4 separate regions of the Homo sapiens genome follow, and all the other regions are linked to region 4. Evidence: fine-mapped expression QTL. A gene starts in region 4. Each other region holds a variant in brackets. All regions are shown on one strand. Distances are between the middles of the regions.

Region 1 (7,912 bases), 46 kb after region 4:
AGATCCAAGAACCCTCTCTTGGGGTTTGGATCCAGACCTCTTTCCTGTAACAGGGCCACTTTCTCCCTGCCCATTGGCAGAAGATGAAATTTTCCACCTCCAAATGTTTGTCTTCCCTGGATTTAAGCTAGTCTGACCTGCCTCAAGGTTAGAAATTCAGGTTGAAAAGTTAATGAATGCATTTTTATTTTGTATTTATGTGAATAAAGTATAAAACTTTATACGTGAGGAGCCCAGAGGAGGGTGAGATTCTGGAAACTTGGATAGGTAAGAGAAGGTCTCCTGGGCTTCAGCCTGGCTGTAACAAGTAACCTAGATGGAGGTTGGTTCCCTTGAGAGAGGTGAAGAAAGAATGTAACAATGAGTTGGGCACGACAGCCAAAGTAGAGAGATGAGGGCCTTTAATGGTAATAGTAGTAGTTGAGGCCACAGCTATGCTAATCACTGTTCATGTATTTAAACTTGTTTAATCCCTACATAAACCTATGAATTCTGAGCTATTGTTACCCCTTTACAAATGAAGTAACTGAAACCCAGAAAGGTTTAGTCTATCTATGTCACACTACTGTTAAGTGATTGCATCAGAATCCTAAACTCTGCAATCTGTCTCCTTCCAGAGCCCATGGGGATATGGCTGAAAAGTAATTAGAATTAGACAGTAAAAGGATTTGAATACTTCGAATACAGAGTAGTGTAATATGATGGTTAATTTTATGTCTTAACTTCACTGGGTTAAAGGATATCCAGAAAGCTGGTTAAACATTATTTCTGGGTGTGCCTGAGAGGATGTTTCCAGAAGAGATTAACATTTGAATCAGTAGTCTGAGTAGAGAGGAATTTGCTCTCACCAAGGTGTGTGGGCATCACCCAAGCCGTTGAGGGCCTAGAGAGAATAAAACTGTGGGAGGAGGGTGAATTCACTCTCTCTTCTGGAGCTGAGACAGCCATCTTCTGCCCTCGGACATCTAAGCCCCAGGTTCTCAAGCCTTCAGACTCTGGGGCTTATACCAGCGCTCCCCCAACTCCCCAACACACACCACTGGCTTTCCTAATTCTCCAACTTGCAGACAGCAGATCATGAGATTTCTCACCCTCCATAATCATGTGAATCAATTCCCATAATAAATCTCTTATCTATCTATTTATCTATGGGTATAGAATACACACACACACACACACACACACACACACACACACACATATATACACATATCTTTTTGGTTCTGGTTCTTTGAAGAATCCACACTAATACATCCAGTCTTCTGGACTGGACCCATAAATCAAAGGAATCATACTCCAATGGCAGACTTCCAGACCTTAACAGTTGGAAGGTCGAAGAGAATTTTCTTCTTTGGGAAGGGAGGGTGCTTTTCTTTCCCGCTTTTCACAACAAGCCAGTCTTTACCTTCCAGATGTTGTACCCCCACCTTCAGGGATGACTCCATAATACTTGAAAGGGACAGTTTGTGTGACCAGCACAAATTTCTCATTTTAGAACCGAACTAGAAGTAAACAGTCATATGAGTCTATGTAAAGAAAGAAGAGGCCAGGTGTGGTGGCTCACACCTGTAATCCCAGCATTTTGGGAGGCTGAGGCAGGCAGATCACCTGAGGTCAGGAGTTCAAGACCAGCTTGGCCAACATGGTGAAACCTTGTCTCTACTAAAATACAAAAATTAACTGGGCGTGGTGTGGTGGCAGGCACGTGTAATCCCAGCCACTCAGGAGGCTGAGGTGGAAGTTGCAGTGAGTCAGGATTGCACCACTGCACTCCAGCCTGGGCATCAGAGCAAGACTCCGTCTCAAAAACAAACAAACAAAAAGTAGAGACTACTGACTCAGCATGACCATAACCATGGCTCTGTCTTCTAAGGCTCCTTCCACCATAAATTTGTTATCTTAGTTCTCTAACTCAAAGACGAATTCACAATCTCAGCCACACATGCTGTTACAATGAGCATATACAAGGATCAGGACAGGTAGCAGGCAGAAGTGTGCCCTTGGTCTACTCTCCCTCCTCCTCATCATCCCTGCTCAAAATAGGGAAGTGGAAAGAGTCCCCTCTTAGAAGCATGGGAATTAGAACTCCTCGAATCTTTTGTTTTCACATTGTATCAGAGTAAAACAACTAAAATTTACATACTAAAACAAGCTAATCTATAACTTTGAACATGACTCTGCAGAAAAATAAGAAACTTCCCACAGACGTTTTCCACTAGTCAACTAAGCTACTTAAAACAGGTAGAGGCCAGGCGCAGTGGCTCATGCCTGTAATCCCAACACTTTGGGAGACTGAGGCGGGTGGATTGCCTGAGTTTAGGAGTTTGAGACCAGCCTGGGCAACATGGCAAAACCCCTTTTTACCAAAAATACAAAAAATTAGCCAGGTGTGGTGGTGCGTGCCTGCAGTCCCAGTTACTCGGGAGGCTGAGGTAGGAGGATCGCTTGAGCTTGGGAGGTGGAGGCTGCAGTGAGCCCAGATCGTGTCACTGCACTCCAACCTGGGTGACAGACCCCATCTCAAAAAAATAAAAATAAAAAACACCAGGCAGAGATACTTAAATAACTTTGCCAGAGCCTTTGAAAAGCTAAGTGCAGAGCTATCAGAGTAAATAAATGTGCCCAGGAAATAGCTCTAGGGGCTTGACTGGGAGTAATGGGAGCAGGGTTATTTTTTATTTTATTTTAAGCAAACATAGCACAGCCTGCACATGCACATGTCCGACTTCAAAGCAATCACTTCAGAAAGAATACTAGCTTGAAATATTTTAGAAATGTTTTTAGTGGAATTGTCTTCAGAGGCAGAGAATATTCTCTTTAATATCCCTAGGAGGAGTTCAACCTTAAATTTTTTTTTTTTTTTTTTGAGACGGAGTCTCACTCTGTCGCCAGGCTGGAGTGCAGTGGCACGATCTCAGCTCACTACAACCTCTGCCTCCTGAGTTCAAGCGAGTCTCCTGCCTCAGTCTCCTGAGTAGCTGGGATTACAGGCACCTACTACCATGCCTAGCTAATTTTTGTATTTTTAGTAGAGGTGGGGTTTCACCATGTTGGCCAGGATGGTCTCAATCTCTTGACCTTGTGCTCCGCCCACCTCAGCCTCCCAAAGTGCTGGGATTTCAACCTTAAATCTTTGAGATGCGTTTGCTTTCTGAAGCCAACCACAAATTAGACCAGAGCCTTGCATAGTGAATAAGGAGGATAATCAAGATAAATAATGAATAATCAAGTTGAATCACTGAAGATCTCTAAATGAGATGTGGCCTCCTTGACTGTTTATTGGCTTTGTAAATTTTTAAATTTAGGATTGGTGGAGTACAGCCATATTGCCTACCTTTTTGACAGATGGATTGGTATGTATTTGTGATGTCGTTGGTATCAGCCAGGTTCTGGCAGGACACAGGCTGCACACTCAATGAACAAGAAGGCATACCTGAAAAGGGTTCAAGAGGGCCTCTTTACAGAGGTGCAGACAGGTTGAGGAAGCAACTGAGGGCAGTGAAACACCCAGGGTGCCAGCACCAATGGGAAGGTGTTACCGCCCAGGCCTGAAGGGCAAGTGGGAGGAAGGGCCTATCAGAAGTCAGCAAGAGCTGCAACCAGAAGGGTGGCTGACCCATTGAAGAGGTGGTTATGGAGAGCACACTGCAGCACCTGCCAAAGGGAATCCAGTTTCTCTTATCTTGTGCTCAGATCTCCTGGCAGTGTGACAGTCCCCCATCAGAGTAAACCCAATCAAAAGCCAGGGGCAAGGCTACTGAGTGATGTCATCCACAGAGGTGAGCCTTGTGGAGGAGAGCAGGCCAGGTAGGCCAGATCTTGGATCTGGAGAGGCCAGTGGAGGACAGCACAGACACACTGTGCGTGCATTGTTCCTCTCTGTTCCAGGGAGGGAGGGAGCAGTTCTACTCTATGGCAGAGTAACCAAGTCTACTCCTTGATCTCATTTCTCACCCTCCCACCCCCATGTTTGCTTCTTTGTCTCTGTGTGCTGCATTACAGCAAGTTAAAGTCTAAAACTAAATCAAGTTATTTCCTGAGGAAAAACTGGGCTTTTAAATACATAGTGTTGGGACAAATAGAAAGCCACCTGAAAAAGGATGGAGTGAATCTAAACCTCACACTAAAATAAATCCCAAATGGACCAGAGATCCAAATATACAATGTGCAATCAAGGAGGTTTGGCACAGGTGAATTACTTTATAACCTGGGGACACGGAAAGCCTTTTCAACATTCAGCAAAAACAAACAAACAAACAAACAAACAAAAAAATCAGGGAAAGATTGGTGAACTTTACTACCTAAAACAAACAAAATACAAGAAGCAAGGTCAAAAAACAAATGACAGACCAGGAGAGACCAATTTCAAGTTATCTCAGCGGTGGCTCACGCATGTAATCCCAGCACTTTGGGAGATCAAGGCGGGCGGATCATGAGGTTAGGAGA[T/C]TGAGACCATCCTGGCTAACACAGTGAAACCCCGTCTCTACTAAAAATACAAAAAAATTAGCTGGGCGTGGTGGCGGGTGCCTGTAGTCCGAGCTACTCAGGAGGCTGAGGCAGGAGAATGGTGTGAACCCAGGAGGCAGAGCTTGCAGTGAGCCGAGATTGCGCCACTGCACTCCAGCCTAGGCGACAGAGCGAGACTCCATCTAAAAAAAAAAAAAAAAAAAGAAAAGATGAGGACAAGTACATGAAAAGCTTTTAACAATGGATAAGCTCCAAAATTGCATAAAAATATGGGCAAAAGTCATGAAAAGAGAGAAATGTGAGAACAGAGCGAAAAGAAATGCAAGTCACTCCCTACACATATGAAATGACGCCCAATTTCCCTTACAATAAGAGAAATGCAAATTAGAATTCTTCTGGATCCAAACATTTTATAACATACTCTACTGAGAGTGGAAATGCAAAATGGAACAAACCCTATGGATGGGGATTTGGCAAAATTGAGCAAAATTACATATGTGCTAACCTTTCACCCAGCAATCTCGTTTCTAGGAATCTACCTTGAAAATACATCTCAGGCAGGGCGCGGTGGCTCAACCCTGTAATCCCAGCACTTTGGGAGGCCGAGGCGGGTGGATCATGACGTCAGGAGATCGAGACCACCCTGGCTAACACGGTGAAACCCCGTCTCTACTAAAAATACAAAAAATTAGCCGGGCGTCGTGGCGGGTGCCTGTAGTCCCAGCTACTCGGGAGGCTGAGTTAGGAGAATGGCGTGAACCCGGGAGGCGGAGCTTGCAGTGAGCCGAGATTGCGCCACTGCACTCCAGCCTGGGCAACAGAGCAAGACTCCGTCTCAAAAAAAAAAAAAGAAAAAAGAAAAGAAAATACATCTCTACAAATAATCAGTAACATTTGCACAAGGTTATGTAACACAACATTGTTTGCAGTAGCAAAAGATTAGAAATAATCTAAACATCCACCAACAAGAGAGGCTGTAAATAAACTGCAGTACATACATGAATTGGCGACCAGGCATCATAAAACACAGAAAAAAAAAAATGTCTGTGAATTGAAACAATCTCCAGAATATATTTTTAGATTTAAAAAGTTAGTATAGTATGCTATATTTTGTGTGTAAGGGGGAAAAAGGAGGAATAAGAATATATTTAGGTATTCGCCTATATTTGCAAAAAGAAGCAATAAAAATAATTACCTATAGGAGGTGGGGGGAATGAAGTGAAGGGAGAGGGTTAGGAGTGAAACTTCTGTGGGTTTGGTTACCTTTTCGTGTATTTTTTAACTTTGGGACCACATAAATGTTTTATATATTTAAAAAATTCAAATAAAAAAGACAAAAGTAAAATCCTAAAATGGAAAACAATTGGGACCAATGAGCTTAACTTTATTTCAAATGTGGCAACCACAGCTATACAAAGAACAGAATTATTTCAGTACTTTAATTATACACTCATAATGGATTTGATCTAAGGATAAATGAATAGAAGGAAATCTTAAATTTCAGTCAGTAATTTATTATTTATATAGTATTATAATTCTGAACTAGGAGAAAACAAGTGTACAATTCTGAATTAGGAGGAAAGAAACACTATATTATTACAAACCAAAACTTTCAGTGTAACAGAAAAGAGAGGCAAAAACAACTATTAAGTCAAAGAACTTAAAATAAAACACTGTAAGGTTAAATTTGCATTGAGAAATTCACATTAAATAACCTTTTAAAAGTGTATTTGTCATTCCTGGATCTGTTCACTGAAAGGGCTTTGAAGCAATGATACCCTTGTGTCAATTAACATACCTTGCCCCTTGATCTTGGCATCGAAATATCATTTCTCACCAGTAAGGAGAATGTCCTTATTAGGAAATGCATGTTGAAATATTTAGCAATGAAATGGCATGAGTCTACAGTTTATTTTCAAATGGCTCAGCTGTGTGTGTGTATCTGTGTATGTCTGTATGTGGGTGGGTGGGTAGGTGGTAAGGATCTAATTATTACACCAAGCAATCCCTTTTCCTGCACCTGGCATAACCTCCTGTAGAATGAGCTCAAGCTTCCCACACTCGCTTGATGACATGGCCTCCATTCTGAAGATGAAACAAAACTTGGAGGAGCACTCATGTAAAGATCTAAATTACTAAAATGCCTGTGCCTGAGACTCAGAGATCCTAAAAATAGACAGTGCCATGTGTGCTCTAATTTTCTGCTTAAAGTGACTTAAATCCTTTCAATTCAGACATTTTCAATAGAATATATGGTACTTCAACCTTATAAGTCAAATGCATTTGTTGAAATAACATTTCTCAGTAGTTTTTTCAGTTTCCGTGGCTGCAATGGGTGGAGAACTTTCATTAGCAGTTATTGGCTTTGGTGTGGCAATGGATGTTGCACAAAGGCCTTTGCTTGGGAGTTGGGAAACACAGGTTCTCATTGGGCTCTATAACTAACTTGCTATGTAGCTTTGTATAAGTCATATCACCTTTTGGGATCTTGGTCTTTCAACTGCCGAATATAGGTATTGGATTTTTCTTCTACTGTAAACAGTGATTTGGAATTTTCTCCAAGTAGAGTGATATGTCTACCATAACAGGGGTAACAAGAAAGAAACAAGAGTGAGAGTTTATTACAGCATGAAGTGGCACCAGGAATAGGAAAGGAACCCCCAATCCAGATAATTTTTTGATATCAATCTTGTGTCAAATTCTTTAAACATATGACAATGAATAAGAGCAACAAATGAATCCTCAACTATAAGAACAATATTTTGGTATATAATTTTATGTATAATTATCCTTAGTTCCAATAATTATTTTCTTTTTCTATCTAGAAGGAAAAGGATGGATTCTGAGTGGTTCCAGCTAGCCATAGCTCCCTATAGCTGCAATTCATGTGGCAGCCTGCGTGTATGCTAGCGTTGGCTGAGGATTTTTAATGCACTTCAGATTTTGGTTTAATATGCTTGCAAATAACTTACCATGGAAGTCCCCTTGAAACACATTAAATTCTCTGTTTACTCGCATGACTGGGGAATTAGACAATCAACCATGACAATCTATCAAAAGTATTAGAATACAAAAAGCACTAAGCATGAAATCTTATTGAAAACCATTTCATTCTCTTAATTATTCATTAGGTTCCTCAGACTCTGAGAGACCTTCAAGGTCATTATTATGAATATTAATTATCACTGTAATGTGGCAATGGAAAAATGCATTTTAAAAGAGTTCTGTTCAGTAGAATACTGCTAGTAAAAGAATTCACCATTTTATTTGGGAGTGTGTGCTCTTCTGCTTTTTTGCTACATGGTGAGAAAATAGGAACATTAGAAATGAAACTTCCAGAATCTTTTTAGTGCATGGGATGGGTTCCAGTTTGCATGATTCCTGTGCAAAGGCCTGGGAGGAAGGAGTACCTGCTGACTGGGGTCAGGGAGGAGTGGAATGAAGT
Region 2 (7,912 bases), 180 kb before region 4:
GGCCGTCATGCAAGAGGGGTCCATCAGCATTGAGGGAGGGGAGGCCTGGGGATAAGAAGGATGAGTAGATGCTCCCCAGGGGTGGGGAGAGCCCGGCAGCCTTCCAGTACAGTCATCTCCAGGACTGCAGAGAAAGCTGCTTCCTGTTCTGGGCTCTGTCATACCCCCCTTCATTACTCCCCAGCCTCAATCAGATTCCATGACACACAACAGCATCCTGTTAGCAGTGCTTGGGGGAATGAAGACAGAGGGTGGTGACTACATGAGAGGGAAGGACAAAAAGAGGGGGCAGCAGCCCAGGTGGGGAGAAACAGGGGGCAGGCTTCAGGGAGTTTGAGACAAACTCCCTTTTCTCAAAAAGAAAGGGAAAGAGGAGCAACGAAATACAGGGAGGCTAGCCAAGGGGAAGACACAGGCAATGATAATTGTCATGTACTCTTTTCTGAGCAACAGCTCCCTCACATAGAGCAGGAATCCCGTGGCTCTTTAAGGAGGAGGTATAAGACACTGATTCTGAATCGACCCTACAAGGGCTGGGGTGGCAGGCATTCCAGGCAGATCTTAGATGATGAGGCTTAGAGAGGCCCAAGGTTACGCAGCTCAAACATGAAAGAGACGGGGTTGGAACGTGGCTCCACCTGACTTCCAAGGGCAGCATGTCTCTTATTGCACCACAAGGCTGCCCGTGATGCTGTTGCCTCCAGCTCTGGCAGGGCAACATGGAGTCCTGACCCACAAACAGTCCTGTCCTTCTCTTATCACTGCTGAAGCTCCAGGACTCAGCCATTATGAAATCCAACCAAGCTTCTGGTGGTGAGTGCCTCATTACCCTGTAATCCCCGTTTATAACAGAGGTTTTCTTCCCTGGAGAACATGGGCTGAGGATCCTTGGACATGAGAACCAGAAGTGCTGGCTAGTTCTGTCTCTCCCTGGAAACGTGGCCATCTCTTGGGAGTTTGCTTCCTGCAAGTCAGTCCCGGCACCTATCACCTTTGGGTGTTGTACCAGTTGCTGCTTTGCTCTGCCCAAGCTCCTTGGATCCCCTTCACCATTTTTGTGCCCATAGACACCTCTTGTGCTTTCTCCTTAACAGCCAGCATCTGAGGACAGCTCTCAGGCTGCTGAAACCCACTTTGCCTGTGTGCATGGAGAGCTGGAAATGCCTGGGATGTGCCTCTTCCTGGGGCTACCTGTGACTAATGACTGATCAATCCCCAGCTTCCCCCACCCCCAGACACTCTGAGGTGTCACCTGCCCTATCTCCAGAGCTCACCTGGGGGAAACAGCCAAAGTTACCCTCCAGGCAGGATGTCACACTCCTGCTTCTTGGTCCTACTTTCCCACTTGCCTACCCGTTTTTCCAGGGAACAATTGCTAATAAATCTTTTTCAAATGAATTGCTTCCAGATGAATCCTCATCTCAGGGTTGGCTTTGGGGAACTCAAACTAAGACAGTTATATTAACAAATCTAATTGCTGAGCCTCCAAAGCTGAGAACCAGCAGACTGGTTCCATGGGCTGAATTTGGCCAGCAGTTGTATTTTGTTCAGCATGCCTCCTCATCCCTCCTGATCTCTTCTCAAAGCAAACACTCTGTTTGCCATGTGGAAATAAAATTCTTGACCTTGGCTAATAGAGTGCTTATCAACTGTGTTGATCCTTCACAAAGAAAAGCAATGCATGTGGCCACCACATAGCAAGTGCTTCAAGAGCCACTAGTATCTCCTGCAAACTTTGCAATTACCTGTGAGAAAGAAGCTAACATCGTCTGATTTTAACTGATGAGGATTCTGATTCATAAGGGCTTGTTTACCCAGTTTCATATCTGGGGGCCAGCAGAGATGGGGTTTGAACTGAGGCAATTTGACTCCAAAAGACATGTTCTAACCACTGTGTCACATAGAGACCCGGGAAACCCACGCCTGCCCTCCTGGCCCCCAATCAAGGCCATCTCATAACTGGTGGGATTTTCACCTGGTTTTTGAAACTTCGATTTGGTTTTTGCTTGTCTCTTTCCCTATTATTTACTTTCTTTCTTTCAACAGCTTAGGGCTTGATTTGGGTAGGCACAAGAATAAAAAATGATTGAGGACGATGTATTTTTGGAGGAATTTGTATCTTTCTGTAAAAGAAAAGACTAAGCATCTACATATATTTAAATTCTCAAATTGCAAAGTGGCAGTTCCTGGGACCCAGAAATTCCACAGAATTTCTAAGGCTGCTTCCAGAAACTGGACCTTTATGTGCATGGGGCTGTGGGTGAACCAGAGCAAGTCGTCAGGAGAGGAAATCTGCCCCCCTCCCCACCTTGTGCCACTCCTCCTCCAACAAGCTGTCAACTCTGCAGTGGAGAACAGTGCCAGCCTGCAGGCTTTCTGTTCCCAGAGCTCAGGGGATGACTCAGTTACTGAGGTATTTCCTTTTTTCATAAGCCTACCATGCAGAGATTTTCAAATTATTTCCCTGAAATGTTTCTCCCCTCACCTTTGCTGCATGCCTTGTCTCCAGAAGGCACAATTTTCAATAGATTCTTCCTAACAACGTACCAGCCAGCATCTATTAGGCTCTTCTTAGATGCCAGACACCCAGCTCAGCATTTCATATCTGTCAGCCCAGCGCTCCCTCACAGCCACACTGGAAGGTCTGCATACTAGGCTTCCCATTTTCTGGATGAGGAAAAGGAGGCCCAGAGAGTTTGCCCAAGGCCATTTTGTCCAGAAGTAGCAGAGGTGGAGCTCAAACCCTTGCCAGTTTGCTCAAACCCTTTAACCACTCTGCTATACTGCCCCATTACTATTAAAATATTCTTTTTATCCATGGTAGATTGTATTACTTGTCTGAAATCGTTGCTACCCTCCTATCCCTTGATATGACTTTCCCGTGGGCAGATCCTCTACCCTTAACTTTGGCTTTGGCCATATGGCTTGCTTTGGCCAATGGAAAGAGGATGGAAGTTAGAGTGTGTCATTCTGAGCTGAGGCCCTAGGCAGATAGCACGTTCCTGCCAGTCCTCTTGGCATTTCCACTCTCTGCCACAAGAAAAGCACATTCCTGAAGCCAGCTTGAGCCCCAGCAGAAAGCTGGGACAGCTCACTCTACCTGTGGGACAGTCTTGGTCCCAACCTGATGCCCTGAGTGAGCCCCTCTCATCTAAACTTGGCTGAGTCCAGCCAAGACCAGCCAAAGCACAGCCAACCAGCACATGGTGGGTACAAAATCAGTGGTTGCTGTAAGCTACTGAGCTATCAGGGCTGTTTGTTATGGGTCATTTTTGCAGCAAACCTCTCATCAATATATGTATTATCATTCTAGTCTAGCCAGTGCCACATGGACCGGCTCTCAGCATCATGGTGGTGGAGTGCAGGATCACACTCTCAGGGAATGAATGGGTCTGTGAAATCATCTGACCCGGCTCCCCTTCCTAGCCTTCATCCCTCCCTGCCTCCTAAGGCAG[A/C]CCTCTTCTTCTCTGGACACTCTGAAAGGAAGTCTTCCCTAGGTTGAACTTTGAAAGTCTGTGTTCAGCCAACAATTCATGATTCCTGCCTCTTCTTCATAAGATTGGCACCTGAGTCCCTCACAACCTTTGTCACTCTCTTACAAGCACACTTCTGCTTGTCAATGTCCCTCCTAAGCTACGGGTAGGGCCACTTGCTGGTTTGCTCTCATATCCCTGCCGTGTCCTGTTTCCCATTCTTCTCTGCATCGTAGAGGGGTGAGCCCTGCGAATGAGTGTCCTGGAGTTCTTGCTCACTGGCTTGCAGATAGGTGTGGCTATCAAAAGGCTCTGGGGAGAGATTGGGAGAGGAGAGACAGGGAGGAGCCAGGGTACTTCTCCCCACTATCCCTGCTCCAGGTAGTGTTTCTGGCAATGGCTGAATGTTCTCCATGGGTCCAGCTCCTTCTGTCAACAGGCCTCCCACTGTATCCTCTCCTTCCAAGTCCTATCTAGTGGCCCCTAGAACCCAAGTTTGGGAGTATCCCCTCCTCCTTTGACCCTTCCAGCCCAAGGGGTGATGGTGGCTTCTAGTTGTAGCTAAACTCTCGGTTGCCTCTCCTTCTCCTGTTTCTTTTGCAGCTAACTCTTCTGACCCTTTGCCCTTCCCATATTAAATCCCCCTCATCTCAACTACTTGGCCTGGACCATTCTGTTTTCCTCAATGGACATTGACTAATACAGCCTCCTGACTTTTCAGGGATTCATCTCACATGATATACAACATGCCCACCCTTTATGCAAACAGAATTTACATGTGAAAATAGGACATGAGTTGAATTGCAGTTGACTAGCTAACAAAATGTTAAATTTTGTAGCTGTTTAATTATCAATATATTAATTTCGAATAAAGTTTTATTTTAGCACTGTTTTGCCAACATGTTTTTCCCTAGCCCTTGGGACACTTTTGTAGCCCTTAAAAAGCTCATGGGCTCTGTGGACAAAATCACTCTGATGGTGGTGACTGAAGTAAACAAAGATCAGTTGCAAGAGACTGTCTACTCCAGAGAGTTGCTCTCTCAGTGAAAAGCCAAGAGGAAAAGGAACCCAAATCTTCACTGTTGGGTGCCATTTTGCCCAGAAATTCTCTACTTTCCCATCCAATAAGACAGTGTTTTTATCCTTTAAGAGGCCCAGAGCTCTGAAAGACTTTGTGTCTATGAGATGGAGTTTCTTCATGATCTGAGAGGCAAGAGGATTGTAAATGTGTCAATGGAATTCAGATTTCCCAAGTTGCCCAACCACTATAATACAGTTAAAAGCAAAACTCCCCTGGAAGGCTGCCGAGACTCTAAGGCAGGATGCTGCACAGCCTTGAGAAGACAAACAGCAGCTCTGACAGCCCCTCCTTTGCAAATGGATTTGGCTCTGTGAGCTGGGCTCCACAGCACGGTGAGACTTAGCCCTGCTACTGAGCTGTGTGGCTCATCCTGGTAGGAAAATGGCCACACCTGGGAAAAGAAAATGCTGCTGAGGCCTGAGGCCAGCACCCAGACACTGAGCCCTGAGTCTTCTCATCAGGCCGATGGGAAGAGTTCATCTCGTCAGCCAGATGAGGAGCTGGGCCATGGCAAACACATGGGGCTGTGGCCAACTCAGTGGGCACAGCAGGGCTTGGTATGAAACACCCACCAGTCTGACCAGTCACCCCCCCACCCTTGCTTCTCCGCAGCTGGTGGCACTAGGGAATTTGATTCTGTGACACCCCCACTGCCCCTGCCCGCCCGCCCGCCCATTGTGGACAGCAGTGGGAATGGAGATGAAAGCCTCTTGGTTGGAGAGAGACCCATTGGGAATAGTGCTGAAGACAGAACTAAGCTAATACAGCACGTCACATAAAGAAGAAGGAATGGGGAGGGCCTGGCTCAAAGGGGACATGAGTCCAGTCTTTAGCCATTCGAAGGACATTAAGCAAGAAGGCTTTATTGAGCACCTATCCAGTGTCTTCCCCTTTCACCGGCATGCCCCTGGGCTGCTGACCTCACTGTATTTTCCAGAACACCCCTGAGCTGAGAAAAGTTGGACCAGTGAATGTGCTGTTGTATAATATGCCCTTGTTTATGTGATGGGGAGTTGTCATCCAGGGGTTAAGGCCAGAAAAGTGGCAGATCACGGGAGCCAGGCAATAAGAGGTGCTTGAGATGGAATAAAATGGAGCAAATTAAATTTACCAGAATTTTTAGGAAGCAAAGATGCCAAGCAGCATGTGTTTGAAATGAATCTTCTGCTACATTGCCTGTGGGGAGGAAAGCTGTGTTCCCCAGGGACATGCTCTACTGCCTAGTGGCTGACTCAGGTGGTCACTCAGTAAGAATTTGCTGAAGAAATGCTTGGGAAACACCAGAGGTTCTCTAAACAGCCTCCCAGGGTGTAGGTCCCCCTAAGTGAGGGCTTTGGTTTAGCTGAGTAAGAGGTGAATGCCAGTGCTGTTAATAATCTTCTTCATTCCCACCACAGAGCTCAGCCTCACCCTTAAATCCACCTTGAACAAATATTTGCAGAATATCCTATGCATGGGGACCTCACTCTTTGCCATTCCAGATCACTTAGGTCAGGCATGGTCAGAAGTCAGAGTTCCAGGATGGGAAGACTAAGCTCTGCCTCTAGCCAGCTGTGTGACTTTGGGTCTTGACCTCTGTGGGCTTCAATTTCCTTATCTGCAAAATCATGGTCTAAGACTCAGACTTGAAGCATTGCTCTGGGCTTTTCTTGAAATCAGGCAGGCAGCACTTGCTGAAGACAATGCGTTTGAGATCCCAAGAGGCTAAGAGGTGAGAGTGAATGGAAATGATAATAACTAATGCATGACCAGCATCTACATGAGCATGGAACACTTGTTAACCTGCTGCATTCTTACAGTGGCACCCATTTTGATCAATCGCTTCCTGTCCTCAGCCCCACTAAGGTGTGGGGCTAATGTCATATTTTCACAGATGAGAGGGAAAATTGCAAGCATTAACCTAAGACCAGAGACAGTAAGCAGGTGTGTGGACGAGGTACTGCCTGGTCTTTCGTAGCACAGGCCCACAGTGCTGGTTCTCCCTAGAAGGCGTGAGCATGTACCTGGATACCTGGCCACAGGACCTCTGGGCCAGCTGCTTCCTTCTTAGGAGTTGACACCCCCTCACATCCTCACTCTGCCGGGAAAGGCCTTGAGACAGAGAAGAGCCTGTGCTCACGGAGCCGGCCTAAGTCCTGTTTACCACTTAGTCGCAGCCAAATGGAATAAGTGCAGTATTGATTAATTGCAATTTTTTTGGAATACATATTCACTCTGATGTTTTATCATTAATGCATTAAGAAGCTGAACAAGCAATAAGACCAAATGGACTTCAAAACACAGCAAAATTTCCATCCAGTGCGGTCTGATTTACAGCCATTACCTCCTGGCACAAGACAGCCCCCATTATAGCCCACACCTTGGCTGAAACTTGAGAGGTCTTTGTTCTTAACCTTACTTATTTATTTCCTCCAACAGCAGGTATACTCCGGCTTTGTGCCACAGGGCAGGACCTTCCTGGTGATGGGGTACATGTGCTGGAAGGCTGGACAGAGGGAGAGGAGTCAGCTTCCTGCTGCATGCAGATGGGGGGACTGCAGACCCTGACCTGGTTATGGGGGAACATGGTGACCTCACCTCCCATCCTCCCCAGCAACAAGCTTCAGAGGGAAAGGAGGACTCAAGGGCCGAGTGACTCCAGCTCACTCTATCAACTCACTCTGCGCATCTGTCAGCTGCTGCAGTGCCCTGTGCGTCATGGCTGGGTTGGGCACTGGCTCTGTCATTAGCTGATGGCAAGAAAGACTGGCTGTTTTCTTTCCTGTTTGGGGGCCTCAGTTTCCTCATTCGCCAAATAAGGAAACTGGACTGGACAATTTCTGAGAGCCTTAAAGATGCAGCAGCTCATGACTCTTCCCTCTCTCCCTCCTTCTCTCCCTTCTCTCTTCCCTCTCTTTCTTCTTCCTCTTCCTCCTCTCCCGCCTTTTTCTTTGCAAAACAATTTTATTCTTGCAGAGTCTTGTCAAAAGCTCTCTAGGTGCACTGACTGGGGCAAAAATTGTCTAAAATAATAACAGCAGCAGCAAAAAAAAAAAAGAAGAGGAAGAAAGAAAAACACCACAACTATTTAAAAAGCACTTTTGCAAAGCTCAGATGTCAACAACGAAAACTTTGGGAAGGTATACTTAAAGGAGTTGGTGTTTTCAAAATTTAACCTAAGATATTCAGAGAGCAAGGAGGGACTTGGAGTCAGGTGGAGTCTGGGTCAGTGGTGTGGCCCATAGAACTGGCCATCCCAGAATGGAGCATTCTCTCCATTTCAGGGTTGCTTGTGGGGACTTGCTGTGTGTTGGTCACTCCCTGGTGGCAGGCCCTGTATGGGTTCCAAGGATGGCACTTAGAGAGGGATGAAGGGCAG
Region 3 (7,912 bases), 26 kb after region 4:
GGATGCCCTGTTCAATAAACGGTACTGAGAAAATTGGCAAGCCACATGCAGAAGAATGAAACTAGATCCCCATCTATTACCGTATACAAAAATCAACTCAAGATGGATCAAAGACTTAAATCTAAGACCTAAAACAGTAAGAGTTCTAGAAGATAACATCAGAAAAAACTCTTCTAGACACTGGCTTAGGCAAAGAATTCATGGCTAAGACCCCCAAAGCAAATGCAACAAAAACAAAAATTAAAAAATGGAACCTAATTAGACTAAAATGCTTCTGCACAGCAAAAGAAATAATCAGCAGAACAAACAGCCCACAGAGTGAGAGAAAACATTCACAAAATTTGCATCTAACGAAGAACTAATATCCAGAATCTACAAGAAACTCAAATCAGCAAGAAAAAAAAAACAATCCCATAAAAATGTGGGCTAAGGACATGAATAGACAATTCTCAAGAGAAGATATACAAACAGCCAACAAACATATTAAAAAATGCTCAACATCACTCATCATCAGGGAAATGCAAATTAAAACCACAACGAGATACCACCTTACTCCTGCAAGAATGGGCATAATAAAAAAGTCAAAAAACAATAGACGTTGGTGTGGATGTGGTGAAAAGGGAACAGTTTTACCCGACTGGTGGGAATGTAAATTAGTACAACTATGAAAAACAGCATGGAGATTCCTTAAAGAACTAAAAGAACTACCTTTTGATCTAGCAATCCCACTACTGGGTATCTACCCAAAGGAAAATAAGTCATTATATAAAAAGATACTTACACACACATGTTTCTCCATGATTGGCAATTGTAAAGATGTAGAACCAACCTAAGTGCCCATCAACCCATGAGCGGATAAAGAAAATGCAGTGTATATATACACCATGGGATACCAGTCAGGAATAAAAAGGAACAAAATAATGTCTTTTGCAGCAACTTGGATAGAGCTGGAGGCCATAATTTTAAGTGAAGTAACTCAGCAGTAGAAAACCAAATATCATATGTTCTCATTTATAAGTGAGAGCTAAGCTATGAGGATGCAAAGGCATAAGAATAATACAATGGGCTTTGGGAACTTAGGGTGCAGGGAAGGTCAGGAGTGGGATGAGGGATAAAAGACTACATATTGGGTACAGTGTATACTGCTCAGGTGGCGAGTGCCCTAAAATCTCAGAAATCACCACTAAAGAACTTACCTATGTAAGAAAAAACCACCTGTACCCCCAAAGCTATTGAAATACAAATCAAAAAATTTTAAAAAACAATAGTGTAACTACACAAATTAAATTACATGGATTGGGCTGGGTGCAGTGGCCCACGCGTGTAATCCCAGCACTTTGGGAGGCTGACATGAGCGTATCATGAGGTCAGCAGTTTGAGACTAGCCTGACCAATATGGTGAAACCCTGTCTCTACTAAAAATGCAAAAATTAGCTGGGCATGGTGGCACACGCCTGTAATTCCAGCTACTCAGGAGGCTGAGGCAGGAGAATTGCTTGAACCCAGGAGGCAAAGTTTGCAGTGAGCCAAGATTGCCCCACTGCACTCCAGCCTGGGTGACAGAGCGAGACTCTGTCTCAAGAAAAGACAAAAAAAAAAAAAAAAAAAAAAAAAACATGCATTGTATTTTAATGCATGAGGATTAAAAAACAAGAAAGGGTCAAAAAACAAGATCCAACTATATGTTCCCTTCAATAAATTTCACTTTAAATATAATTACACATGTAGATTAAAAATAAATGGATGGAGAAAGATATACCATGCTAACATTAATCAAATCATATACCCTACTAAAATTAAAAACTGTATATATTTAAGGTGTACAATGTGATGATTTGCCATTCTGCCATGTGAAGACACAGCATTCAGGCTTTTCTCCATGTGAGGATGCAGCAAGAAGAGCCACCCAAGAGCTCTCTTAGAAGGGAGCAAGCCCTTAACAGATGGCAAATCTGCTGGCACCCTGATCTTAGACTTCTCAGCCCCCAGAACTGTGAGAAATAAATTTCTATTATTTATAAATTACCCATCTATTTTACTATAGAAGCAGGAATAGTCTGAGACAGAATGGACTGAGAATATTGATAGATATCTATGATTGATTGATAGATATATAGATATAGTCTTTCCCATCTTGAGTATCTTGTCAGTGTAATTATAATCATCTTTATTTCTTGAAAACAAATGACAAGAAAGCAATTATCACTCTAAAGAAAATGTATAGAATACTGGCTAAATCCCCAAACAAGAAAAAATTAGGTCTCTTACATTAATTTTTAGCTATTTTAACAACTTACAGAAAACTAATTACGAGGTTTAGTTAAAAATTCAATTCCCCCAATCCAGAATGAGATAATTCATACTCCATGTAACTGTAATTCTTAATCTCTTCTTTTCCAGTTGTTTGAATCATCACTGTAATTTAGCCTTTATTCAAGTGGGAGACTTTTTATTCTCTTGAGAGAAAGAAAACAAAGGGACATTAAGTACTTCTTTTGAATTATTCTTTAAAGCTTGAAATATAGGTTTTATTTCAAAACCAGTGTTTGTACGTTGAATAGCATACAAATCAGGGTTTGAATTAAAATCCTTGAAGATATGACAGAAATATAGTATTATTTTAAATTTAAATGTTCCTTAACATGTAAATGACTTAAAATTACATTAATATATTTTTTGTCATCTGCACGTTCTGTAGCTCCTTTGGAGTTATTAAAATAAAAGTGTATTGAAAACAAAAACAAATACCTAACATAAAAGCACATGCTGAAACCTCTTTATAATTGTATAATTAAACACCACCAAGTTGGGAAATGTTAAATTGAACATTTCATACAACCATCAGTTCCTGGCGTTGCATACAATGAGAGCATTATTCAACTTCACTCACAAATAACTGGTTGAATAATATAATTACATTTAAACTAGCTAATTGGATCTCAAAGTCAGAGCTACGACCAACCAGTGAATCCTGAAGATTTTGCGAATTACTCATATTGTGTTCTTGAGCAGGAGCAATATGTTTTTAGAAAGGTGTTGACAGAGAGGAAGGTAAATGAAAAGGAAGGCAAGAGAACAGTAAAGAAGGCAAACTTGAGTTCTCCATAATAAGTGCCTTAAGATCACCAATGCTAGATGACCAAGATTTTTCTCTTTTTTTTAAATTATATATGTTAAGTTCTCGGTTACATGTGCAGAACGTGCAGTTTTGTTACATAGGTATACACGTGCCATGGTGGTTTGCTGCACCCATCAACCTGTCACCTACATTAGGTATTTCTCCTAATGTTATCCCTCCCTTAACCGCCCACCCCCCACAGGCCCTGGTGTGTGATGTTCCCCTCCCTGTGTCCATGTGTTCTCATTGTTCAACTCCCCCTTACGAGTAAGAACATGTGATGTCTGGTTTTCTGATCTTGTGATAGTTTGCTGAGAATGATGGTTTCCAGCTTCATCCATGTCCCTGCAAAGACATGAACTCATCCTTTTTTATGCCTGCATAGTATTCCATGGTGTATATGTGCCACATTTTCTTAATCCAGTCTATCATTGATAGACATTTGGGTTGGTTCCAAGTCTTTGCTATTGTTAATAGTGCCACAGTAAACATACATGTGCATGTGTCTTTATCGTAGAATGATTTGTAATCCTTTGGGTATATACCCAGTAATGGGATTGCTGGTTCACATGATATTTCTAGTTTTAGATCCGTGAGGAATTGCCACACTGTCTTCCACAATGGTTGAACTAATTTACACTCCCAACAGTGTAAAAGCATTCCTATTTTTCCACAACCTCTCCAGCATCTGTTGTTTCCTGACTTTTTAATGATCGCCATTCTAACTGGGGTGAGATAGTATCTCATTGTGGTTTTGATTTGCACTTCTCTAATGACCATTGATGATTAGCATTTTTTCATATGTCTGTTGTCTGCATAAATATCTTCTTTTGAGAAGGGTCTGTTCATATCCTTTGCCCATTTTTTGATGGGCTTGTTTGCTTTTTTCTTGTAAATTTAAGTTCTTTGTAGATTCTGGATATTAGCCCGTTGTCAGATGGATAGATTGCAAAAATTTTCTCCCATTCTGTAGGTTGCCTGTTCACTCTGATGATAGTTTCTGTTGCTGTGCAGAAGCTCTTTAGTTTAATTAGATCCCATTTGTCAATTTTGGCCTTTGTTGCCATTGCTTTTGGTGTTTTAGATGTGAAGTCTTTGCCCATGCCTGTGTCCTGAATGGTATTGCCCAGGTTTTCTTCTAGGATTTTTATGGCCCTAGGTCTTATGTTTTAGTCTTTGATCCATCTTGAGTTGATTTTTATATAAGGTGTAAGGAAGGGGTCCAGTTTCAGTTTTCTGCATATGGCTAGCCAGTTTTCCCAACACCACTTATTAAATAGGGAATCTTTTCCCCATTGCTTGTGTGTGTCAGGTTTGTCAAAGATCAG[A/G]TGGTGGTAGATGTGTGGTGTTATTTCTGAGGACTCCGTTCTGTTCTACTGGTCTATATATCTGTTTTGGTACCAATACCATGCTGTTTTGGTTACTGTAGCCTTGTACTATAGTTTGAAGTAAGGTAGTGTAATGCCTCCAGCGTTGTTCTTCTTGCCCAGGATTGTCTTGGCTATGTGAGCTCTTTTTTGGTTCCATATGAAATTTAAAGTAGTTTTTCCAATTCTTTGAAGAAAGTCAGTGGTAGCTTGATGGGGATAGCATTGAATCTATAAATTACTTTGGGCAGTAAGGCCGTTTTCATGATATTGATTCTTCCTATCCATGAGCATGGGATGTTTTTCCATTTGTTTGTGTCCTCTCTTATTTCCTTGAGCAGTGGTTTGTAGTTCTTCTTGAAGAGGTCCTTCACATCTCTTGTAAGTTGTATTCTTAGGTATTTTATTCTCTTAGTAGCAATTGTGAATGGGAGTTCACTCATGATTTGGCTCTCTGTTACTGGTGTATAGGAATGCTTGTGATTTTTGCGCATTGATTTTGTATCCTGGTACTGCTGAAGTTGCTTATCAGCTTAAGGAGATTTTGGGCTGAGATGATGGGGTTTTTCTGAGCATACCATTATGTCATCTGCAAACAGAGACAATTTGAATTCCACTCTTCCTATTTGAAAACCTTTATTGCTTTCTCTTGCCTGATTGCCCTGGCCAGAACTTCCAATACTATGTTGAATAGGAGTGGTGAGAGAGGGCATCCCTGTCTTGTGCCAGTTTTCAAAGGGAATGCTTCCAGTTTTTGCCCATTCAGTATGATATTGGCTGTGGGTTTGTCATAATTAGCTCTTATTATGTTGAGATATGTTCCATTGATACCTAGTTTATTGAGAGTTTTTAGCATGAAAGGCTCTTGAATTTTGTTGAAGGCCTTTTCTGCATCTATTAAGATAATCGTGGTTTTTGTTGTTGGTTCTGTTTATGTGATGGATTACGTTTATTGATTTGCATATGTTGAACCAGTCTTGCATCCCAGGGATGAAGCCCACTTGATCATGGTGGATAAGCTTTTTGATGTGCTACTGGATTCGGTTTGCCAGCATTTTATTGAGGATTTTCGCATCAATGTTCATCAGGGATATTGGCCTAAAATTCTCTTTTTTTGTTGTGTCTCTGCCAGGCTTTCATATCAGGATGATGCTGGCCTCATAAAATGAGTTAGGGAGGATTCCCTCTTTTTCTATTGATTGGAATAGTTTCAGAAGGAATGGTACCAGCTCCTCTTTGTACCTCTGGTAGAATTCAGCTGTGAATCTGTCTGGTCTTGAACTTTTTTTGGTTGGTAGGCTGTTAATTATTGCCTCAATTTCAGAACCTGTTATTGGTCTGTTCAGAGCTTCAACTTCTTCCTGGTTTAGTCTTGGGAGGGTGTATGTGTCGAGAAATTTATCCATTTCTTCTAGTTTTTCTAGTTTATTTGCGCAGAGGTGTCTATAGTATTCTCTGGTGGTAGTTTGTATCTCTGTGGGATTGGTGGTGATATCCCCTTTATCATTTTTTATTGCATCTATTTGATTCTTCTCTCTTTTCTTCACTAGTCTTGGTAGCGGTCTATTTTGTTGATCTTTTCAAAAAATCAGCTCTTGGATTCATTTATTTTTTTGTGTCTCTATCTCCTTCAGTTCTGCTGTGATCTTAGTTATTTCTTGTCTTCTGCTAGCTGTTGAATTTGTTTGCTCTTTCTTCTCTAGTAGTGTTAATTGTGATGTTAGGGTGTTGATTTTAGATCTCTCTTGCTTTCTTTTGTGGGCATTTAGTAGTATCAATTTCCCTCTACACACTGCTGCTTTAAATGTGTCCCAGAGATTCTGGTACGTTGTGTCTTTGTTCTCATTGGTTTCAAAGAACATTTTTATTTCTGCCTTCATTTTGTTATGTACCCAATAGTCATTCAGGAGCAGGTTGTTCAGTTTCCATGTAGTTGTACAGTTTTGAGTGAGATTCTTAATCCTGAGTTCTAATTTGATTGAACTGTGGTCTGAGAGACACTTTGTTGTGATTTCTGTTCTTTTACATTTGCTAAGGAGTGTTTTACTTCCAATTATGTGGTCACTTTTAGAATAAGTGCGACGTAGTGCTGAGAAGAATGTATATTCTGTTGTTTTGGGATGGAGAGTTTTGTAGATGTCTATTAGGTCCGCTTGGTGCAGATCTGAGTTGAAGTCCTGGATATCCTTGTTAGTTTTCTGTCTCGTTGATCTGTCTAATATTGACAGTGGGGTGTTACAGTCTCCCATTATTATTGTGTGGGAATCTAAGTCTCTTTGTAGGTCTCTAAGAACTTGTTTTATGAATCTGTGTGCAACTGTATTGGTTGCATATATATTTAGGATAGTTAGCTCTTCTTGATAAATTGATTCCTTTGCCTTTATGTAATGGCCTTCTTTGTCTCTTTTGATCTTTGTTGGTTTAAAGTCTATTTTATCAGAGACCAGAATTGCAACCCCTGCTTTTTTTTGCTTTCCATTTGTTTGGTAGATCGTCCCCCATCCCTTTGTTTTGAGCCTATGTGTGTCTTTGCATGTGAAATGGATCTCCTAAATACAGCACACCTATGGGTCTTGACTCTTTATCCAATTTGCCAGTCTGTGTCTTTTAATTGGGGCATTTAGGCCATTTACATTTAAGGTTAATATTGTTATGTGTGAAATTGATCCTGTCATTATGATGCTAGCTGGTTATTTTGCCCATTAATTGATGCAGTTTCTTCATAGCATCAGTGATCTTTACAATTTGGCATGTTTTTGCAGTGGCTGGTACTGGTTGTTCCTATCCATGTTTAGTGCTTCCTTCAGGAGCTCTTGTAAGGCAGGCCTGGTGATGACAAAATCTTTCAGCATTTGCTCGTCTGTAAAGCATTTTATTTCTCCTTCACTTATGAAGCTTAGTTGGGCTGGATATGAAATCCTGGGTTGAAAATTCTTTTCTTTAAGAATGTTGAATATTGGCCCCCACTCTCTTCTGGCTTGTAGGGTTTCTGCAGAGAGATCTGCTGTTAGTCTGATGGGCTTCCCTTTGTGGGTAACCCAATCTTTCTCTCTGACTGTTCTTAACATTTTTTTCCTTCATTTCAACCTTGGTGAATCTGACAATTATGTTTCTTGGGGTTGCTCTTCTCGAGGAGCATCTTTGTAGTGGTCTCTGTATATCCTGAATTTGAACATTGGCCTGCCTTGCTAGGTTGGGGAAGTTCTCCTGGATAATATCCTGAAGAGTGTTTTCTTTTTATTGTTTTTGAGATGGAGTTTCACCCTTGTTGCCCAGGCTAGAGTGCAATGACATGATCTCGGCTCAACGCAACCTCCGTCTCCTGGGTTCAAGTGATTCTCCTGCCTTGGCGTCCTGAGTAGCTAGGATTACAGGCATGCACCACCACGCCCGGCTAATTTTGTAGTTTTAGTAGAGACAGGGTTTC
Region 4 (7,912 bases):
AAACAAACCATTTTAGAGTCACTTATATGACCTCATTATCAAACACACTTGAAGAAGCCACAGGTGTACTCTACTTAACAAGTCAGTGACATTTCTTTGCATCAGTTCTAAAATAAGTTCATTCACTAGATAATAAAGAGAATAAAACTAAAAATCCTAGGTCTCAACTGAATAATCAGTTTTAATAAAATCACCTCTCCATATGATTTTTTTTAGTAACTCACAATCAGGAGTGGGAATTACAGAACCATGAGATTAAACTAATAATCTAACAATTAGTCAAGGCAATGATTAAGCCAATATAATGTTTCAAGAGGAAGAACTGAGCTTTTTTTTTTTTTTTTTTTTTGAGACGGAGTCTTGCTCTGTCGCCCAGGCTGGAGTGCAGTGGCACGATCTCGGCTCACTGCAAGCTCCGCCTCCTGGGTTCACGCCATTCTCCTGCCTCAGCCTCCCGAGTAGCTGGGACTACAGGCGCCGCCACCTTGCCCGGCTAATTTTTTTGTATTTTTAATACAGACGGGGTTTCACGGTGTTACCCCAAAGTGCTAGGATTACAGGCGTGAACCACGGCGCCCGGCCAGAACTAAGCTTTTTATATCGTTTAGTTTAGGAGCAGGAAGGTAAAAATAAGATCATGGTCTGGACATGTTAAATTTGAGGAATCAGGCACAAACATCTGACAATTAGAAACATTACCAGAGTACAGAAGAGGGCTCCAGAAAGAAAATGAGATCTGAGTCATCTCCACAGACAAGACAGTTCACGTTTGAGTAAACAAGATGAAAAATAAAAACAAGGATGATGACAGAATCTTGGAAAATGACTACATTTAGAGAATGCAAAAAAAAAAAAAAGAGGAGAAACTAATAAAAGTTATTGTTGGTCAGGTAAGGTAAGATAAAAGGCAAAATGTCATTAAGACCTAGAATGTCTAATAAGAGTTTCAAAAAGTAGTAGCTATCATTACAGTAACAAACACCAAAAAGGACCCAAGAAGAAGTACTGAAAAAAACTAGAAGGCCATTGGGATGTGGCAGTGAAAAGTTTTGTGATTTTTAAGATATCAGGTGGCAAAGGTTTGGGAAGGAGAGAAGGCAGCAGAGAGAAAGGCACATATCTTGCCAGTTTTTAAAAAGATTAGATAGAGAAATCCACTCTCCTATCTCCAAGGCAAAGACCTACATTCACAGTCTAATGTAAACCCAGTGGGGAGCTGGCAAACAAACTGAAGCAGGGAGGGGAGAGAAAAATCCCTTATTTATACCTTATTTATAGCATTTGATGATTTCCGTGGTGTAAATACTCCCACCATGGCCAATTTCAAGCTGCCAACCGTTGGCAAAATTCCTGAAAATTTAGCAATGGCTTGCTGGTACAAATCAACTCCAGCACACAACTGCAAATCACCTCTTTTATGGTCTACCCTGCAACTGAGCAATTCTGTGACAGCTTTCTCTCAACTCAATTGACACTAAATCATTCTCTAGGACAACTTAAAGCAATTCACAGAAGTCTACTCTACTCTCATTACATTTAGCTTTCTCAACTGTATTGCAACTGAAAGGGGTTGGATGTTGAAAGCAAAATGGATCCCAGTATGCCTGTCTTCACTAAGTGCCACAAAGCAAAGGACAAGAATCATATTCTCCAAAAAGCCATCAGATGACCATTTTATAACTTTCCTTTGTTAATGTTATCTCCCTATCTAAACCTCAAATGTCTTAAGGGTAGGGAACTGTATTCAAACAAGAGCCAAACATCCCACATGAGTCCCAATTCCAGTGACAGGCAGCAGGGATACAGGGTAAGCACCTTAGATTAAATCCAGACACCTCAAAGGGTTCCACAAAGGGTTCCAATCCAGCCCTGCTACTTGCTGGCAGGCTGTTAGCAGCCTTTACAGTGGCAGTTTCAACTGCAAAATGGGAACAATAATACCCAGCACACAGGGGCAACCTTGGATTTAACAGGATCACTTCTGGGGATAGTCACTGGACACTGCTAAAGCATATTGCCAAGAATACCAGCGAAGCCCACTTCTGTCTAGAAACTATGGCTGATCAGCTGCTAAGGATTTTTTAATCATCTACCTCCAATGACCTCCAACCATCACTCCAAGCCATAAAACCCTTTCACGATTGTGTCCTGGACTCCAAGGCCCCACTACATCAAAACCAAATAGTCCACCTGAAAGTAGTGTCAAGAGTCAAAAATGTTGTGACAAACAAGATGAGAACACAACCTACCAATTACGTTCCTACTTGCGTCCACATGACATTCAACATTTCACCTCAGTGCAACGAGGAAGTTCATCAACAAACCTCAACAAATAAACAAAACTCAAGAGAATAACTTCCTTTCTAATATTTCACAATTTTTCCCCATGACATCTTTCCAAATATCCCTGTCTTCATGGTACTCCATATTCTATCATTTAGGTTATGTTTCCTAGGCAAATTTCTCCAGACGTCTGAAGTAGAACCGACGTCAAAAAATTAAATATATATGGGGGAAGTTTACTTTCCAATACAAACGACAGGCCTTGAGAAACAAGGCAATAACCTCCATAACAATTTAATTATTCCACTCATTAACTACTATTCTTCTACTAACAAGTGCAAGAAGTCATTTAGGTGTAGAAAAGAATAAACTCACTATACCTGTATATAAAAAAGTTTCACATTAGACATCTGCCCTCCAACTTCCACAGTTTCCTATACATTATGTGTGTTCTTCTAAGGCACATGCAACACACACTTCGCCAGTAAAGCCAGAATAATCCCAGAAGCGCAAACAAATAAGGGACAGTGGAGCTTGCAAGCCAAAGACCTTCATCCGAAAGATGAATTATGACATTTGAACGTGTATCTCTATCTTAAGGGCTAACTTTCTTTCTATGAAGTATCTGAAACTCACAGCCATACACCCACTTCCCTCACTCCTTCTCCCCTCCCTCCTTCCCGGCACCCCCGCCCTCCCGCCGCTTCCCGGGCGAATTCGGGCCTCTAATATCCCCTCCAAGGAAGCGCCGCCCCTTCCTACGGCTACGGGAAGGATCGTCCAGTGGCTGAGGCTGGACAGAGCACAGGTAGTACCTGTAGACGGAAGCCGCGATGGGAGGCTGACAGACCCGGTCATTTCCCGCGCCTCGCAGTCAGGTGCAGGGTCGACCGGGCACCGCCCGCCGGCGGCATTGGGGCAGGCCGGGTCCCTTGGCAGAGCCCGAGCCGGTGCGGCCGCCGCGGCCAGCTCCGTCGCCGGCCCGCGGGGTGGCTTATACAACAACGGGGCGGACCCTCCGCGCGGGGTCAAGGCGGCCTCCCGGCGCGGCCGGAGTCCGGCTCAGACACCTCGGGGCCCCGACGCTGAGGGGAGCCTCTCCCAGGCAGAGCGGCGCCGGGACGCCTCTGGGCGCCGCGCGGACTCATGCCGGGGAGGGTCGAGGAAGCCGCCCGTCGTCGCCAGGCGGGCGGCGACTCCTTGGTGCTGCCCGCTGGGCCCTAACCCGGCCCGCGCGGAGGGTGCGCGCCGGAGACACACGAAGCCCCCTGCCGGCTGCGCTTACCTCTCTCCGGTGTCGGCAGAGTCCACCTCCTCCTCCTCCGCCGCCATAGCCGCCGCCGCGCAAGCGCCGGGACTTATCTCGAAGCCGGCTGACAGGCCGACTGGGCCGCCCCGGGCTGGCGCGGCACTTAAGGCGGCGCAGGCCGCCAGCGCATGCGTCTTCCGCGCACTAGCACGGCCCGGCGGCGCGCCCGCGTTTGCGCGTGCGCGGCCTTGCCTCCGGCTTTGCGTCCGCCATCCCCAGCCAGCATGCACTAGTTCTCCCGCCCGACGCTCCCGGGTGTAAGCGCGGGGCGGGACAGTCAGCCCAGAGGGACTGGCGAGACTCACCCGAATGAGTTAGGTGTTTTAGCTAATTTGAATAATGACTGTATTCATGCATCACCCCGTCGGTGTTGGCTGTCAGGTGGCACCTTGGGGACGGAGGTGCGTCCGGTCCTGGAAGAGCCTAGCTAGTGTCCGATAGATGGTGCAGTGGCAAATGAAATGGCGTAATCGAGGTGCTGTGTGGCGTCCCGCCAGCCTTTCCCCGCGGGTTGGGGGGCCAGGGGGAGAGGGCGACTCACAGGAGCCTTCAGTCAGTTGAGCACTGCTCTAGGTGCTGATGTTACTGTAGTGGCCAGAGCCAGCAATTTCCCTCCCACTCGACTCTCTAGATACCTGGGAGGGTGAAAAGAGTCGGTGTTGGCCGGGCGCGGTGGCTCAGGCCTGTAATCCCAGCACTTTGGGCGGCCAAGGCGGGCGGATTTTCTGAGGTCGGGAGTTGGAGACCAGCCTGAGCTGAAGAAACCCCGTCTCTATTAAAAATACAAAATTAGCCGGGCGCGGTGGCGCATACCTGTAATTCCAGCTACTCGGGAGCCTGAGGTAGGAGAATCGCTTGAACTCGGGAGGCGGAGGTTGCGGTGAGCCGAGATCGCACCATTGCACTCCAGCCTGGGCAACAAGAACGAAACTCCGTCTCAAAAAAAAAAAAAAAAGTCTATGTTTAGGTACTTCGAGTTATTGAGGTGAAATGACTAACCTAAATAGCAGTATTTCTTGACCTGTTTTCAAGCCTTTTAGCAATCAGGTGCAACCTGCTTTTGGAATTCTGCCACCCACTACTACTCATCCATTTATGTTTGGTGTGTGTCTACTATGGGCTCACTTTGTTCTAGGTGCTTGAAAACAATGGGTTGAAATACTGCTCCTGTTTTGATAGATCCTACGCGAATATATTAACCTTTATTTTAGACTCAGTTCATTGTTCTCCTTCCCTGACTCTCCTCCCTCTTTTTCTCTCCTCTGAGCCCCACTGTAAACCTGTCTTTATCACCCATCTAGCTCTCAGGTTCTCAGCCTTGTGTAATTGTTACAGCTTTTAAATAAACATTATCGAATATCTTTCCAACTACACGAGAAAGTCCTCTAGGATAGGAATGGTGTCTTCTGTAATTTAGAGGGGGGAAAGCCACTTATAATCTCTTAGGCATAGTAATAACTAATACATTTTTTATTGTGTTTGATCTAATTCATAAAATATTTTAGGGAAGACCAGAACATATAAAAAACATTTTTACAGGAATTCCTGGTTGTTTCATGAAAGGGCCGTATATTCAAAGTGACCTCCAAATACAGAAGGAGCTGAGAAACTAAAGAATGAAGGAGACAAATCCAGCTTGTCAGCAAAAGGTGATTTATTAGGGAACTTACGGACAGAAGCATGGTCTTGGACAGCAGCAAGACAGGTAAATCTCTGTGCTGTTACCCTCCCAGACTAAGGTTGTTTTGACCTAAGGGCAGGTAGGTAAGTATGTGCTCTGATACAATTTGGGTGTTGTCCTCTCTAAATCTCATGTTGAATTGTGATCTCCAGTGTTAGAGGTGGGGTTTGATGGGTGGTGATTAGATTCTGGGGGTGAATTTCTCATGAATGATTTGGCACTATCCCCTTAATGCTGTCCTTGCAATAGTAAGTTCTTGTGAGATCTGGTTGTTTAAAAGTGTATGGCACCTACCCCTCACTCTCTTGCTCCTGCTCTAGTCATGTAAGATGCCTGCTCCCGCTTTGCCCTCTGCCGTGAGTAAATGCTCCCTGTGGCCTTTCCAGAAGCCAAGCTGATACCAGCACCTGTATAGCCTGCAGAACCATGAGCCAATTAACCTTTCTTTATAAATTACCCAGTCCCAGGTAATTCTTTTTTTTTTTTTTTCTAAGACGGAGTTTCACTCTGTTGCCCTGGCTGGAGTGCAGTGGCATGATCTTGGCTCTCTATGACCTGCACCTCCCAGGTTCAAGCAATTCTCCTGCCTCAGCCTCCTGAGTAGCTGGGATTCCAGGCACCCGCCACCACGCCCAGCTAATTTTTTGTATTTTTAGTAGAGATGGGGTTTCACCATGTTGGCCAGGCTGGTCTTGAACTCGTGACCTCAAATGATCCTCCCTCCACTGCCTCCCAAAGTGCTGGGATCACAGGCATGAGCCACCGCGCCCAGCTGTATTTCTTTATAACAATGTAAGAACAGCCTGTCACATGCTCTTATACAAGGAACAATAGATAAAGTAGAAAACTTGGAGGCCTTCCCAAAACTGGGGTTACTCAGAAATCAACATTGTGGATTAGCATCTGAGATGGAGTTACTTTAGCCTCCACAATAGTGTTGCCAGACACTTGTAGTGTGTCTGCAGAAACTGATGCCCTACAATCCCACCTCTCAGAGTGTCTGTTGAAGACCCTACCGCCTGGAACACAGTGCAAGCCCAGTGGTACTGAGTCCAGTAATGAAACCTTAGGATTTTGCAGCAACTCCTGTAGCGCTTTGGTCTTTATGGACCTGGAGTCTGCTCTCAAAGATGCCTGTGCCTGCTGCACAGTCACAAAAAAAGAAAAGAAAGAAAAAAAGAGAGAAAGAGACCATTGATCCAATACTAGAGTTTATGCAGAAACTGACAAGCAGTGCATAGGACTACAGGACTTCATGATCTTCCTCAACTCTGGGAGTAGCTCTGTTCTAGCTTCACCTTGCTGCTGATGGAGTCATCTTCAACAATGGCAAGAAATCCAAGCTAGAATTGGCCATCCACCTATCCCCTGGGTGTTGCCAGCAATGGTGGAACCCTACAACTCTATCCTGACCACCGTGCCACCCTGGAACCCTTGGACTGTGTCTTCTTGGGAGACAATGGACCAACACATGTCATTGCAACCTATACCCCCAGGGCCCCACATACTTTAACCACTGCTTGGACCAGACTTCCTCCATCACTACCTCCCTGAACTTTGATGGTACCCTGAAAGCAGACCTCTCAGAGTTTAAGGCCAGCTTGGTCCCCTACCTCCAAATTAACTTCCTTTTTGTGACCTACTAACCAATTACCTGGTTGAGCAGTGCTTACATTTGGAGATCGCCAGTACCTACTTTGTACTCTCCAATCAGATGGCCAGATATGACACTGACCAAAGCAAGTACAGAGCTTGCTCTGCATGTTCTGCCCCAGGGTTGTAGCCTAAAGACTGAATGCTGCCATTGTCCCACCAAGACCAAGTGTGCCATACACTTGGTTGATGACTGGTGCCCCACTGGGTTTCAGGTTGGCTTTAATTTCCAGCCCTCCAATAGTAGTTCCCCAGGCAAAGTGCTGAGCAATACCACAACCATCACAGGGGCCTGGGCCTTTATCACAAGCCTGCCAAGCAAGCACTTACAAACCAGAATGAGAGTGAGGGCATGGAGAAGGGGATGTTTTATGAGGGCTTCAATGGCCTGGCTGCTTTGTAAATATTTTTTGGTTTTGGTAGAGACAGGTCTCACTGTGTTGCCCAGGCCGGTCTCAAACTCCTGACCTCCCAGAGTGTTGGGATTATAGGCGTAAGCCACCATGCCCAGCCTGTAAATGTTTATAAAGAAATGCTGTAATAAAACATATTGAGAAAGCAAATGTGGCAGGGAGATAATAAGAAGGACACAGGATGATAAGGGAAAGTGGTAGCTGGGTCAAGGGAAGGGCCTGAACATCAATCAGCTGTAGTGACTTCTCAAAAAAAAAAAAAAAATCACATGACTTTAGGGCTTCTTGGACTCTAATTTGCATGCAGACTTCTGTGGATCATGTTGAATTGTAGATTCTGACTCTGTAGGTCTGAGGTAGAACCTGAGATCTCTATTTCTAACTAGCTCCTAGTTATGCCTGTGTTCCTACTGCCAATCAGCAGACTACCCTTTAAGTAATGAGCTCTAGAGCAACCCTGTCTGTTAGAACATTCTGTAATGATGGAAATGTTCTAGACCCACACTCTCTGATACAGTAGCCATTAGCTACATGTGGTTGTGGAGGATCTGAAATTTGGCTAGTGTGACTGAA

The links. PIP is the estimated chance that this variant, and not a neighbour inherited with it, causes the effect.
Region 1: its variant is the best candidate, but not a certain one, in a credible set for the expression of ABHD5 in whole blood (TOPMed, PIP 0.68).
Region 2: its variant is the best candidate, but not a certain one, in a credible set for the expression of ABHD5 in nasal epithelium (TOPMed, PIP 0.57).
Region 3: its variant is the best candidate, but not a certain one, in a credible set for the expression of ABHD5 in whole blood (INTERVAL, PIP 0.53).

What each region holds. Positions count from the first base shown.
Region 1 is chr3:43,640,442-43,648,353 of GRCh38, reverse strand. It overlaps a transcript of ANO10 not described here. Among named protein-coding and RNA genes, the nearest start is that of ANO10, 22 kb to the right of the region's middle. The variant T/C (reference allele first, on the strand shown) is at 4,447.
Region 2 is chr3:43,864,769-43,872,680 of GRCh38, reverse strand. The region is part of intron 1 of LOC107986081 (a long non-coding RNA gene); the gene reads left to right. Among named protein-coding and RNA genes, the nearest start is that of ABHD5, 180 kb to the right of the region's middle. The variant A/C (reference allele first, on the strand shown) is at 3,456.
Region 3 is chr3:43,660,776-43,668,687 of GRCh38, reverse strand. It overlaps a transcript of ANO10 not described here. Among named protein-coding and RNA genes, the nearest start is that of ABHD5, 26 kb to the left of the region's middle. The variant A/G (reference allele first, on the strand shown) is at 4,447.
Region 4 is chr3:43,686,696-43,694,607 of GRCh38, reverse strand. ABHD5 (abhydrolase domain containing 5, lysophosphatidic acid acyltransferase) reads right to left here and starts at 3,670. Exons shown (of 7, transcript NM_016006.6): 1 at 3,569-3,670. The coding sequence starts at 3,615. It also overlaps a transcript of ANO10 not described here and the pseudogene TUBAP3. RefSeq lists a silencer at 3,019-3,498.